3 linked regions of the Homo sapiens genome follow. The protein of the gene in region 1 purifies or fractionates together with the protein of each later gene. This does not show direct contact. Each region holds a gene or a part of one and is shown in the gene's direction. Other genes may lie near its edges. The genes, in order: AKNAD1, GTF2IRD1 and AMY1C.

What was found.
Region 2: the proteins of AKNAD1 (region 1) and GTF2IRD1 purify together in Homo sapiens (affinity purification with mass spectrometry; one large-scale study listed by BioGRID and IntAct). This does not show direct contact.
Region 3: the proteins of AKNAD1 (region 1) and AMY1C purify together in Homo sapiens (affinity purification with mass spectrometry, with the first as the bait; one large-scale study listed by BioGRID). This does not show direct contact.

Annotation. Positions count from the first base shown.
Region 1 is NC_000001.11:108,854,145-108,858,551, reverse strand, and holds the start of AKNAD1 (protein AKNAD1), read left to right. Parts: upstream 1-1,457; 5' UTR 1,458-1,623; intron 1,624-4,407.
Region 2 is NC_000007.14:74,512,866-74,516,515, forward strand, and holds part of GTF2IRD1 (general transcription factor II-I repeat domain-containing protein 1), read left to right. Parts: coding exon 1-106; intron 107-2,479; coding exon of another isoform or gene 2,480-2,575; coding exon 2,576-2,731; intron 2,732-3,650. UniProt on the Homo sapiens protein: May be a transcription regulator involved in cell-cycle progression and skeletal muscle differentiation. May repress GTF2I transcriptional functions, by preventing its nuclear residency, or by inhibiting its transcriptional activation.
Region 3 is NC_000001.11:103,756,039-103,759,336, forward strand, and holds the end of AMY1C (alpha-amylase 1C precursor), read left to right. Parts: intron 1-756; coding exon 757-875; intron 876-985; coding exon 986-1,111; intron 1,112-2,430; coding exon 2,431-2,620; 3' UTR 2,621-2,654; downstream 2,655-3,298. UniProt on the Homo sapiens protein: Calcium-binding enzyme that initiates starch digestion in the oral cavity.

The DNA of each region.
Region 1 (4,407 bases):
GTCATTACAGAGGGAGCCTATATCATGTTACCTTTGAAAATATTTTAATCTAGAAACATCATACACTGTATACAAAATTCATGAATCCCTGACGCCTGGGCGTGGCCTTGGACATATTATTCTGAGCCATCTCCTATTTTCTTTCATATGTAAATGTTATTCTTGAGCTAGGAATAGGAGAGAAAGAGAAAATTGAAACAGCCAGACCAAGTGTTTTTGAATGCTCTTAAAAGACAAAAAAAAAAAAAAAGACAAAAGTTTGTATCACATCAGAAGTTCCCTACGTGCTCTTCAAAGCTGATTGCTTGCAGTTAAAAGAACCCAGAAGAAGCAGGCACGCCATGATTTTGAAGCTCCGTTTTTGTTCTGTTATTCAACTGCAGTCAACTTCCAACTGTTGAAAAAAAGATGATTTAGAATTAAAGGGTTGCTTGTCTGTGTCGCAAGGCCCTTCAACTTGTTCACCTGTGATATCCAGAGACTCCAAGATGTTGGTGAGTTTCTATTGCAATTGCCATATTGCCATGGTTTTGCCCTTTGTGTTGACTGTAGCATTGTGCTGTTTGAAGACAGAGCAGCATACTGCTTTGTGTAGTAAAAATTGATGGATAATGTACTTAAAGCTTTTAGATGTACACTATTCACATTCTAAATGACAGATACAAAAAGGAATAATCAGAATTTAGATTGTTGAATCATTGCCTCCAACAGCCAACTCTTACCGTGACAAAGTCAGTAGGGCTGATCTTAGAAGTGTAGGACTTGTGAGTGTTACGTGGTTGTACTAACTGGTACCTTAGTGGAGGGGCAGATAAGGTAAGTAGAAACAATGCCTGCTTTCTCCTCCATGTCTGGGTCCTACACATAGTCCCCAGTTTGCCTGGTTTGTAGAGGTTTAAACACAGAACAGAGGGTGTTGGGAATGAGACAAAGAGATTGTCACAGGAACATGGACCCACGGTTTTCCTTTGGTGATGAAAACAATCCTGTCAATATGGAAAACTGTGTTATCACAAAATGGGCTTAGCGAATAGAAGAAATGTCACCTACCAGCCGGAAACAACAATTCGCTGACCATCTTTGGCCTCTTGCCACTAAGGAGTTTTGGTTTTCCCATCTGTAGAAATTCTTAATTGAGTCCATCAGATTCCCAGTCATCCTAGCCATGGTTACCTTCTTCTCTAAGTTGGCAGGTTAGTGAGCTTAGGCTAGCACTTCAGCATCAAATTTAGACTTCATAATAAAGTAAATCACACAGGGAATAGCTGTCAGCATGGTGACCACCTTGTTGTCCATTCCTACTCAGGGACTGGCCTGAAGTGTTTTCACAGCCTGGGTCACTGTGATGTCCTGGCCCTGTTTGCTCAAAGTGTTCATCTCAGAGTGACTTGTGAGGTATTGCTGAGCACATAATGGTCAAGATAGCTGCATAAGCAGGCGTGGCCCCAAATGTAGTCACCTGACTTCAGAAAATCAATTTGGATTCTACAGAAAGGTTCTGTTGGATTCTGAGTGGAACCTCTTTGGATATGCCTTTGGATTTCAAGATTGAGCCAAGTGTTGACATGGGAAGATGCTCCAGTTCCTCCAGTTATCTCAAAGAAGCTCATTACCTTGCTAAGGGTATGGATTGTCCTTTTCCAGAAAAAATCCTCTTGATATTTTGCATGCACACATGCAAAAAATAATAACAACAGAAGCTGTTTTCCTGTATGTAATGAGAGTGTTCCTCAGGTTTCTGGTTTATCTTAATGGTATCTCACTCCTTTTCTTTTCCTTTCTTTCTTTCTTTGTCTGTGTGTGTGTTTGTGTGTGTGTGTTTATGTGTGTGTGAGAGAGAGAGAGAGAGACAGGGTCTTGCTCTGTCACCCAGGCTGGAGTGCAGTGGCATGATCTCTGCTCACTGCAGCCTTGACCTCCTGGGCTCAACTGATCCTCCATCTCAGCCTCCCAAGTTGCTGGGACTACAGGCATATACCACCACTGCTGGCTAATTTTTAATTTTTTTTTTCTTTGTAGAGACAGGGTCTTGCTTTGTTGCCCAAGCTGTTCTCAAACTCCTGTCCTCAAGGAATCCTTCTGTTTTGGCATCCCAAAGTGCTGAGATTACAGGCATGAGCCACTGTGCCTGGACTTTTTTTCTTTTTCTTGAGAGCCAGAGCAAAATTCAAATTTTATCAGTTTTAATTAATTATATTTTAAAAGTGGGAATTTGGCCAACAAAGTATCTTTCCTTTCTATACAAGAAGGGTATGGCGTTTGGCAATGAGCTCCTGAAAATGTAAAGAAAGCATGAGGATAACTTTGGGACTGATACTTGGGTCATTAAAAGTCTTGCAAAACTAGAATTTGTTTTCTTCTTCTTCCATTCTCTCTGTAGGCATTTAAACATACTCTCAGGCCAGGCACAGTGGCTCATGTCTGTAATCCCAGCACTTTGGGAGGCTGAGGCAGGTGGATTACTTGTGCTCAGGAGTTCGAGACCGTCCTGAATAACATGGTGAAACTCCATCTCTAAAAAAAAAATTAAAAATTAGTCAGGTGTGGTGGTGTGCGCCTGTAGTCCCAGCTACTCAGGAGGCTAAGGGAGGAAGATCAGTTGAGCCATGGTGTTGTCACTACACTCCAGCCTGGGTGATAGAGTGAGACCTTGTCTAAAAAAAAAAAAAAAAAGATACTCTGTTTTTTTTTGTTCTAAAAAATTAGACAATATTTTGTTTAAACTTGCTTAGTGATTTATTTATTTATTTATTATTTTTTATTTTTTTGAGACAGAGTCTTGCTGTTGCTCAGGCTGGAGTACAGCGGCATGATCTCGGCTCACTGCAACCTCTGCCTCCCGGGTTCAAGTGATTCTCCTGCCTCAGCCTCCCAAGTAGCTGGGACTATAGGGATGCACCACCATGCCCAACTAATTTTTGTATTTTTAGTAGAAATGGGTTTTGCCACATTGGCCAGGCTGGTCTTGAACTACTGAGCTCAAGTGATCCACCTGCCTCAGCCTCCCAAAGTGCTGGGATTACAGGCATGAGCCACCTCATCCAGCCTGATTTTTTTTTTTACCTTCAAATATATTTATTTACAGATTGAGTTTTAAAATTGTCTTAAAGTTCTTGTAGAGATTATGTCTTTTTTGTTTTGAGACGGAGTTTCACTCTATCGCCAGGCTGGAGTGCAGTGGCGCGATCTTGGCTCACTGCAACCTCTGCCTCCCGGGTTCAAGTGATTCTCCTGCCTCAGCCTCCTGACTAGCTGGGACTACAGGTGTGCGCCACCACGCCCAGCTAATTTTTTGTATTTTTAGTAGAGACGGGGTTTCACCATGTTGGCCAGGATGGCCTCCATCTCTTGACCTCGTGATCCACCTGCCTCGGCCGCCCAAAGTGCTGGGATTACAGGCATGAGCCACCTTGCTTGGACGAGATTATGTTTTACATATGCAATTCCTTCCTTTATCCTTTAAATATCCCCACGGATAAGGAGTGCCTCACCTCTGGACCTGGGCATTCTTCAGTATTCCAATACTGAGACTGGTTTTGTTTTTTCATTTTTCAACAACAATGTATGGAATTCTTACTCTGTGCCAAGCCCTATGCCGAGTACTTTAGTGCCTTATTTCAGGTATTGCTAGTCCTATTTCTCAGAAAAGGCAACCGAGACTCACAAGAGTTAAATAACTTGCCAGATGACACACAGCTAGAAAGCAGAGAAGCCAGAGTATTCAGATCCATGCCTCTCCACTTCTGCTTTCCCACTGTGCCTTTCACTTTCTTGGGAAGCCTTTTCCCTTGTTCTTCAACTTGGATTAGAATAGCCTGTAATTCTTCTCATGAAGACATGCCTCACTTTATACTAAATGTTACCCTCTTTAAATGATTTAAAATAATCCTGCAGTGATATTCTCCTTTCTCTCCACCTCTCTAAACAGAGCATCTGTTTAATTTGGGTTCTCTAACATTGGCATGTGTCTATAAATTAAGATTTTTGTACAATGTCTCACAGATGCTTTTACCACATTTAGTTTGTACTCCTTTTTTTCTTGGACGACTTAGTTCAAAAAAATTTATTTTGGTCAAACATATGATTTTAGCTTTTGAGGTTACCTAATAAATCACCAGCTTATAGACTCATAAAAATTTGGTTGGAGAGAGAACCTCAGAGATCTGCTCACCCAACATAATCATTGTATGGGCAAGGGAGGCTGCCAGCAGCTGTGGTCACCCTGGGCTGGTGCTCCAGGGGAGAGGGAATCTCAGTTACTCTACTTAAAACTTGAGATTACTACTTCTGAGGAATCATCCCAAAAGTTCACAAATCAGGAAGAGATATCTGAATGGGTGCTTTAAATTTTGTTTAAAAAAGAGAAAATAGGACTCATACCAAATGGCAGCTGGTTTTACTCCAGCC
Region 2 (3,650 bases), on another chromosome or scaffold:
TGTGTCGCCGTGCACGATGAGAGCGCCTTTGTGGTGGGCACAGAGAAGGGGAGAATGTTCCTGAATGCCCGGAAGGAGCTACAGTCAGACTTCCTCAGGTTCTGCCGTGAGTACCCCAGGGCTCCGGAGGGCCGGGCCCGCCATTTCCCGAGGGCAGGCGCTCTAGCCCATCTCTGGGTCCCCAACCCTGTCTAGCCAGGGTGGCGGTGTGTGGGGAGTGAACCTAACAAGCTAGGTTGTCTGAGATTCCCGATGTGGTGTTATTGAGGCAGCCCCTGAGTTGATAGAGACTGGCTGGGTGAACCCCAGGGTAGGCCAGAGCCAGCCACTTCCATCTGCCTTTTCCAGATGGGGACACCAAGGCCAAGGCTGCTGCTCAGTTCTTCCTCTTAACTATGTATTCCTGAACACAAGGACCAAATGCACTTATGCCAACACAATTTTTTTTTTCTTTAAATGAGACAGAGTCTTGCCCTGTCACCCAGGCTGGAGTGCAGTGGCACAATTTTGGCTCACTGCAACCTCTGCCTCCCAGGTTCAAGTGATTCTCCTGCCTCAGCTTCCCGAGCAGCTGGGATTACAGGCACCTACCACCACGCCCAACTAATTTTGTATTTTTAGTAGAGACGGGGTTTCACCTTGTTGGCCAGGCTGGTCTCGAACTCCTGACCTCAGGTGACCCGCCCACCTCAGCCTCCCAAAGTGCTGGGATTACAGATGTGAGCCGCCATGCCTGGCCATGTTCCAATAAGATTTATTGAATGCCTGCTGTACATAGCATCTTTTCTGATGCTAACTCACCTACCCTGACATCAACCTGAGGGGGCAGGCACTGTCATGGCTATAGTCAGGGTTAACATCTTAGGCCAGGTGCAGTGGCTCATGTCTGTAGTCCTAGCACTTCGGGAGGCTGAAATGGGAGGATCACTTGAGCCCAGGAGTTGGAGACCAGGCTGGGCAACATAGCAAGGCCTCTGTCTCTACAAAAAATTTAAAAATTAACCAGGCTTGATGGTGTACACCTGTAGTCCCAGCTGCTTGAGAGGCTGAGGCAGGAGGATCACTTGAGCCTGGGAGTTCAAGACTACAGTGAGCTACGATGGCACCCCTGCACTCCAGCCTGGGTGACAGTGAGTCCCCATCTCAAAAGAACCATGGTATAGCATGAGGTTAAGAGAACGGGCCGCCTGGGTCCACAACTGCTGTGCCTCAACCCACTCATCTGTGAAAGGGGAGGACGGGTGGGTCTGAGGGTTAAACGAATTGGTACCTTGCAAGCACTTAGGGCAGTGTCTGGCACTTGGTTCACACTCAATAGACACCAGCTGTTGTTACTATTATTAGTATTCACCTCACACCCCTAAGATCAGCTGTTTCAGGGAAGGGCATCCCCCAGCGCTGGGCCTAGCATTACTGGGGTGCAGCCGCATCCCCAGCCAGCCCCCCACCCCCCTCAGCCCTCAGAGCCTAGACCTTCTCCAGGGCCAGGATGGGGGACTGGGCCGGGTAGAATGGACAGCAGCAGGTCGTGTGGCACCCCAGCCGCCCAGAGCCTGAGGCGGTGCACCTGCCTTCTAGAGCCACGCAGAGCCGCTATTTATAGCACCAGGAACTCGGCTGGTTTATTTCAAGCTCCGCAGATCCCAGAGGAGAATAGGCTCCAAGCTGGGAGGGGGCCGCAGGCCCCTCCTCTCATCTCCTTTCCAATGCAGCTTCTAGAACATTCCCCAAGGATCCACCAACACTCTCCGGTCCCCACCCTGGCCCAGCCTGGCATGAACCTGCTGTTTGCAACCCACGGCCTCCTTGGAGCAGGGGTTGGGGGGTGCCTCCCAACCCTCTGCCGGAGGGTTTTCTCTCCCTCCGGCAGAGCAGAAAACGGTGGCATAGATTGGTCAAGACAGTGTTCGTGTCAGAGCACAGAAAGGCATGGATGGGGCCGGGCATGGTAGCTCACACCTGTAATCCCAGCACTTTGGTCAGGAGTTCGAGACCAGCCTGGCCAACATGGTGAGACCCCATCTCTACTAAAAATACAAAAATTAGCTGGGTAAGGTGGCAGGCGCCTATAATCCCAGCTACTCGGGAGGCTGAGGCAGGAGAATCACTTGAACCCTGGAGGTGGAGGTTGTAGTGAGCCAAGCTTGTGCCACTGCACTCCAGCCTGGGCAACAGAGCGAGACTCTGTCTCAAAAAAAAAAAAAAAAAAAAAAATAGAAAGACACAGATGGAACATTCATCGAACCTCAGTTCTGAGCTGGAATAGCTGGCCTCCCGTGAACATTCACAGACTGAGGCTCAGAGAGAGAAGGGACTAACCCAAGGTCACACAGCAAATTAGAGGTGACCAGAGGTGAGGCCCAGCCCTGGGAACTCTGAGATGACCAGCCCTGGCCCTCAGTGGGGTGGTTGGAATAGGGCTTGCTCACTCATTAATTCTTCATTCATTCATTCACTTGTGTATCACATTGTGTGCCAGTCTCCGCAGCTCAGCACAGGGCAGCGACATCCCAGCTCGAAGGCCGGGTGGTGAGACGGGTGCTCACTGTGGCCTCGCGTGCTCTGTGTCCCACAGGAGGGCCCCCGTGGAAGGATCCGGAGGCAGAGCACCCCAAGAAGGTGCAGCGGGGCGAGGGTGGAGGCCGTAGCCTCCCTCGGTCCTCCCTGGAACATGGCTCAGATGTGTACCTTCTGCGGAAGATGGTAGAGGAGGTGTTTGATGTTCTTTATAGTAAGATCCTTCCTCATTCCATTTGGGGGCCCCAGGGAGGGTGGGAGCCTCGGTCCCCACCCAGCAGAGGGGGCCCCCTCCTGTCCCACTATGGGCCCTGGGCAAAGCCGGACCCCAAGGCATGGGGCTACTGGCTACCCCAGCCCTTCCTCATCTCTGCATTCCCAGACACAGAAGTTCTGCTCCAGCCGTTTTCCAAACCTCCACCCCTACTGTCCCTGCCCTGGCTCAAGTCACTGCCACCTCTCGCCTAGAAATAGCCCCAGGCTTGCCACGGTCTCCCTGCTTCCAGACCAGCTCTCTACACCTGCCCTGCAACCAAGGGTATCTTCTCAAAGCACAAGTCTGATCATTAATGAAGCTCTTCTCTCCACAGCCTTCGGGGGCTCCCCATCACCCTGAGCATGGCACAGGGGCCCACACACCCATCCTCATCCCCTCCACACCTTCTTCTCCCACTAGGTGACAGGGCCCTACTGACCTCTCTACAGAACCACTTCCAGTTCTCCAGCACTCGCTGGTGCATTTCACATGCCCTGGACTTCGCGCTGTTACATCTTTTGAGACTGCCTTTCCCCTCCTGTGTCTGGCAGACACCTGCGTGGCACTGAGGCTCTGCTCCTGGAAGCCCCCTCACAGTGGGTTTAGGCCCCTCTCTTGGCACCCACAGTGCCCTGTCCCCTCTCCAGCCCAAGAGCTCTCCAGAGTCAGGGGCTGTGTCTGCCCTTTCTAGCTGTCTCCAGCCTACAGTTCAGAGCCCAGCAACAGCAGGTGCTTGGAGAATGTTTGTTGAATGACTAAGTGAAGGCTGATTGCTCAGCCATGTCTTTCCTGCAGGAAGAGGAGACCTGGCCTCCCTTGGGAAGCGTCAGGTTGCAGAGGGCCTCAGGGCCCCAGTGGTGGTCTTCACACGCCCTGG
Region 3 (3,298 bases), 5.1 Mb from region 1:
TCACATATATTACTTAATTTTTATAGCAAAAGAACTCATTATTCTCATTTTACAAATGAGGAAACTGAGACACAGAGAAATTATTTATATTGATTAAATTTTCTCAGCTACTAGTAATAGAGCCTATGTTTTAATCCTGGTGTTTCTAGTACTAATGCCCTTCCCATTTCAATGCCATTGCATGGCTTACAGTGATGTTAAGAAGCCCTTGCAGGCCAGGTGCAGTGGCTCACACCTATAATCCCAGCACTGTGTGCGGCCAGCTGAGAAGGTCAGCTGACCTGAGGAGTTCAAGACCTATCTGGGCAAGCTAGCAAGACCTTGCCTCTACTGAAAATTAAAAAAAAAAAAAAAATTAGCTGGGTGCGGTGGTGCACACCAACAGTCTTAGCTACTTGGGAGGCTGAGATGGGAGGTTCGCTTGAGCCTCGGAGATCAAGGCTGCAGTGAGCTACGATCATGCCACTGTACTCCAGCCTGGGTGACAGAGCAAAGAAGTCTTTGCAGTGCCTTGGAATGAAAAGGAGAGGATAACAATTTGCTACCTTTGTTTGAAATATGGCAAAAGAGAACCAGAGGATAGAGAGATGATGAAGACCCAGTAAAGGGCTATAAAAATCAATGAAGGCATTGGATTCTAGATAAAGTCACTGAATGCAGAGACACAAGTAACAGGATAGGTTGGGTTTGGTTTAAAGGAGAAGGAAGAGATAAATATATATATGCTAAAATTTGGCTTTTCCTCCTGTAATTAAGGATGTTAATGATTGGGTTGGGCCACCAAATGATAATGGAGTAACTAAAGAAGTTACTATTAATCCAGACACTACTTGTGGCAATGACTGGGTCTGTGAACATCGATGGCGCCAAATAAGGTGAGAATATGTATTTAGACATGTCCTCTAATAGTAAATTTCCGTAGCACTTTATTTAAAACAGTTGAAGTTTAAGAATATCAACGTTTTATATGGTATTGTGTTTTTAGGAACATGGTTAATTTCCGCAATGTAGTGGATGGCCAGCCTTTTACAAACTGGTATGATAATGGGAGCAACCAAGTGGCTTTTGGGAGAGGAAACAGAGGATTCATTGTTTTCAACAATGATGACTGGTAAGTAAATATCAATTAAAAATAATATTTTGTACCAGTATGTTCTTGGTTTATTCTTTTTTTTTTCTGTTCATTGACATTTATCATATCTGAAAAATCATGTAGTCAGTGGAGCGAGAAGACAATAGAGATCAAAATTGGGTAGAAGCAAAAGGATGATGGCTGTTACTCCTTCGTTCTCCTGTTTTCATAAGGGCTTTCTGTTGTAAGCAGAATCCTTTCTGTGCACCCTTGCAATATCTTATGCATATATAGAATGCACATTCATATGCTTACCTACACATGCCACAAAATACACAAAGTAATTAATAGAAGGATTGTGAAATCATTAAAAGAACGTTTCTTATAGTCCTGCTCTTTTAATCATGGAAAAATGCTGCCTCAGTACTAAAATATCTTTATTTCTCTTTTTCTCAATGACAGCTCTACCTAGTTTTTTGGTATACTTTCTTCACTTCTCTGTCTCCTTGTGACAAATAACATTTTTAAAGCATATGGATAAATAATATGTATCTTGTGGTTAATGATTTGCTTCAGGAGACTTGAGTTTTAGTTCTGAAACTTCTCATTATTGGCCTTTCATCTGTGATTTTTGTATCCTTTGGCTGTAGTATAAATGATTCCCGAAACTGTAGCTGAGAAGACCTCCTTGCAAACAGTTGAATTGTCTCTGTCCAAGGCCAACTGACACTCATACTTAGCTCACTCTAGTATAAATTATACTTCACTTATGAAAAATAAATAAATACAAAAATATATAAGTCAAGTTGATCTCTTTCCTGCCAAAAAAATGCGTGTCTATTTCCTTAGTTTCCTTCTTTTGTGGATGAAAATACCAAAAAAATCTTTTGTGAAAAAGCTTTATATTTCAAACTATCACTTCCTCATACAAATGCTAGATTGTTTTTATGTACACCCTAAATTCTTTTTGACCTCATGTAGAATAAAAGAAGGTTAAAAAAATAATACCCTTTAAATTTTTAAAGTAATTGGCATTAAGTTCAGTTGAGAAAAAATTTGATTTTACCAAGGTAGCACTTTATCAAAATGTGACCGCTCCCGCCAATCTTCGGTGATATTCTTCAACTTTGATTTTTCGGTTATATTTTCACTACTGAAAAGGAAATTGGTAGGTTTTCTGTAAGGTTACTTTTGGTCCTAGAAAGCTGTTTACACCTACTAGGGAGGCATATGGGTTTTCTTCTTAATGAGACTTCACTGCTTAGGGTTCTAAAACATAAAGTTATGCTGTTTATTTGTGTTAGTCTGTATTCTTGATTTCATTGTTTTGAAGTTAAATCTGAAATTTTATTTTACAGGACATTTTCTTTAACTTTGCAAACTGGTCTTCCTGCTGGCACATACTGTGATGTCATTTCTGGAGATAAAATTAATGGCAACTGCACAGGCATTAAAATCTACGTTTCTGATGATGGCAAAGCTCATTTTTCTATTAGTAACTCTGCTGAAGATCCATTTATTGCAATTCATGCTGAATCTAAATTGTAAAATTTAAAATTAAATGCAAATCCGCAAAGCAATAGCTAAGTGTGTTTCTTTTCTTACATATACAGTAATAGTTACATATCATTAATTTTAAATAAAAGCTCTAATTAGTAAAAAGAGGTTTAAGACACTTGATAGTATGAAATACAATTCCAGGTTACACATAAGTTATTTATTTTGGCAAAAGGATGACTCAAAAATTTTAAAACTAGGCAACAATCTTTACTCATTAAGAGGTAAGACTTAGCTTTCCAAACAGTTTGTCTCCTGTCTACTCTTTTCTCTCCTTGGCATTCTACCAACAAGGCAAACCAAATATTTCATTATTCTTCTCTATTACATGAAAAATCTGTACAAGGGAAGGAAAGCCAAATTTTACCCTTACATAGGTTTCAAAAGAATCCTTTTTCCATAGGCAACATTTACATTTTTATGCCTTTTTATAATCTTTTACCACAAACACATTTAAGTGTTCCTACACACCTTGCATGTAAATTTATTTTTAGTTGTCTTATTTACATATTTTTATGGTCAATCTTAGCAATTTTTAACTTTAATGTAAACCTGGTAAGTTGTTTTAATTATGTACTAGATGCAGATAAAGTCTGACTTTTTCCATTCTAGTTAGGGCATGGTTAATTTCATATGTCCCCAGGCCTTACCAAGTTGTAAAGTAGGCAG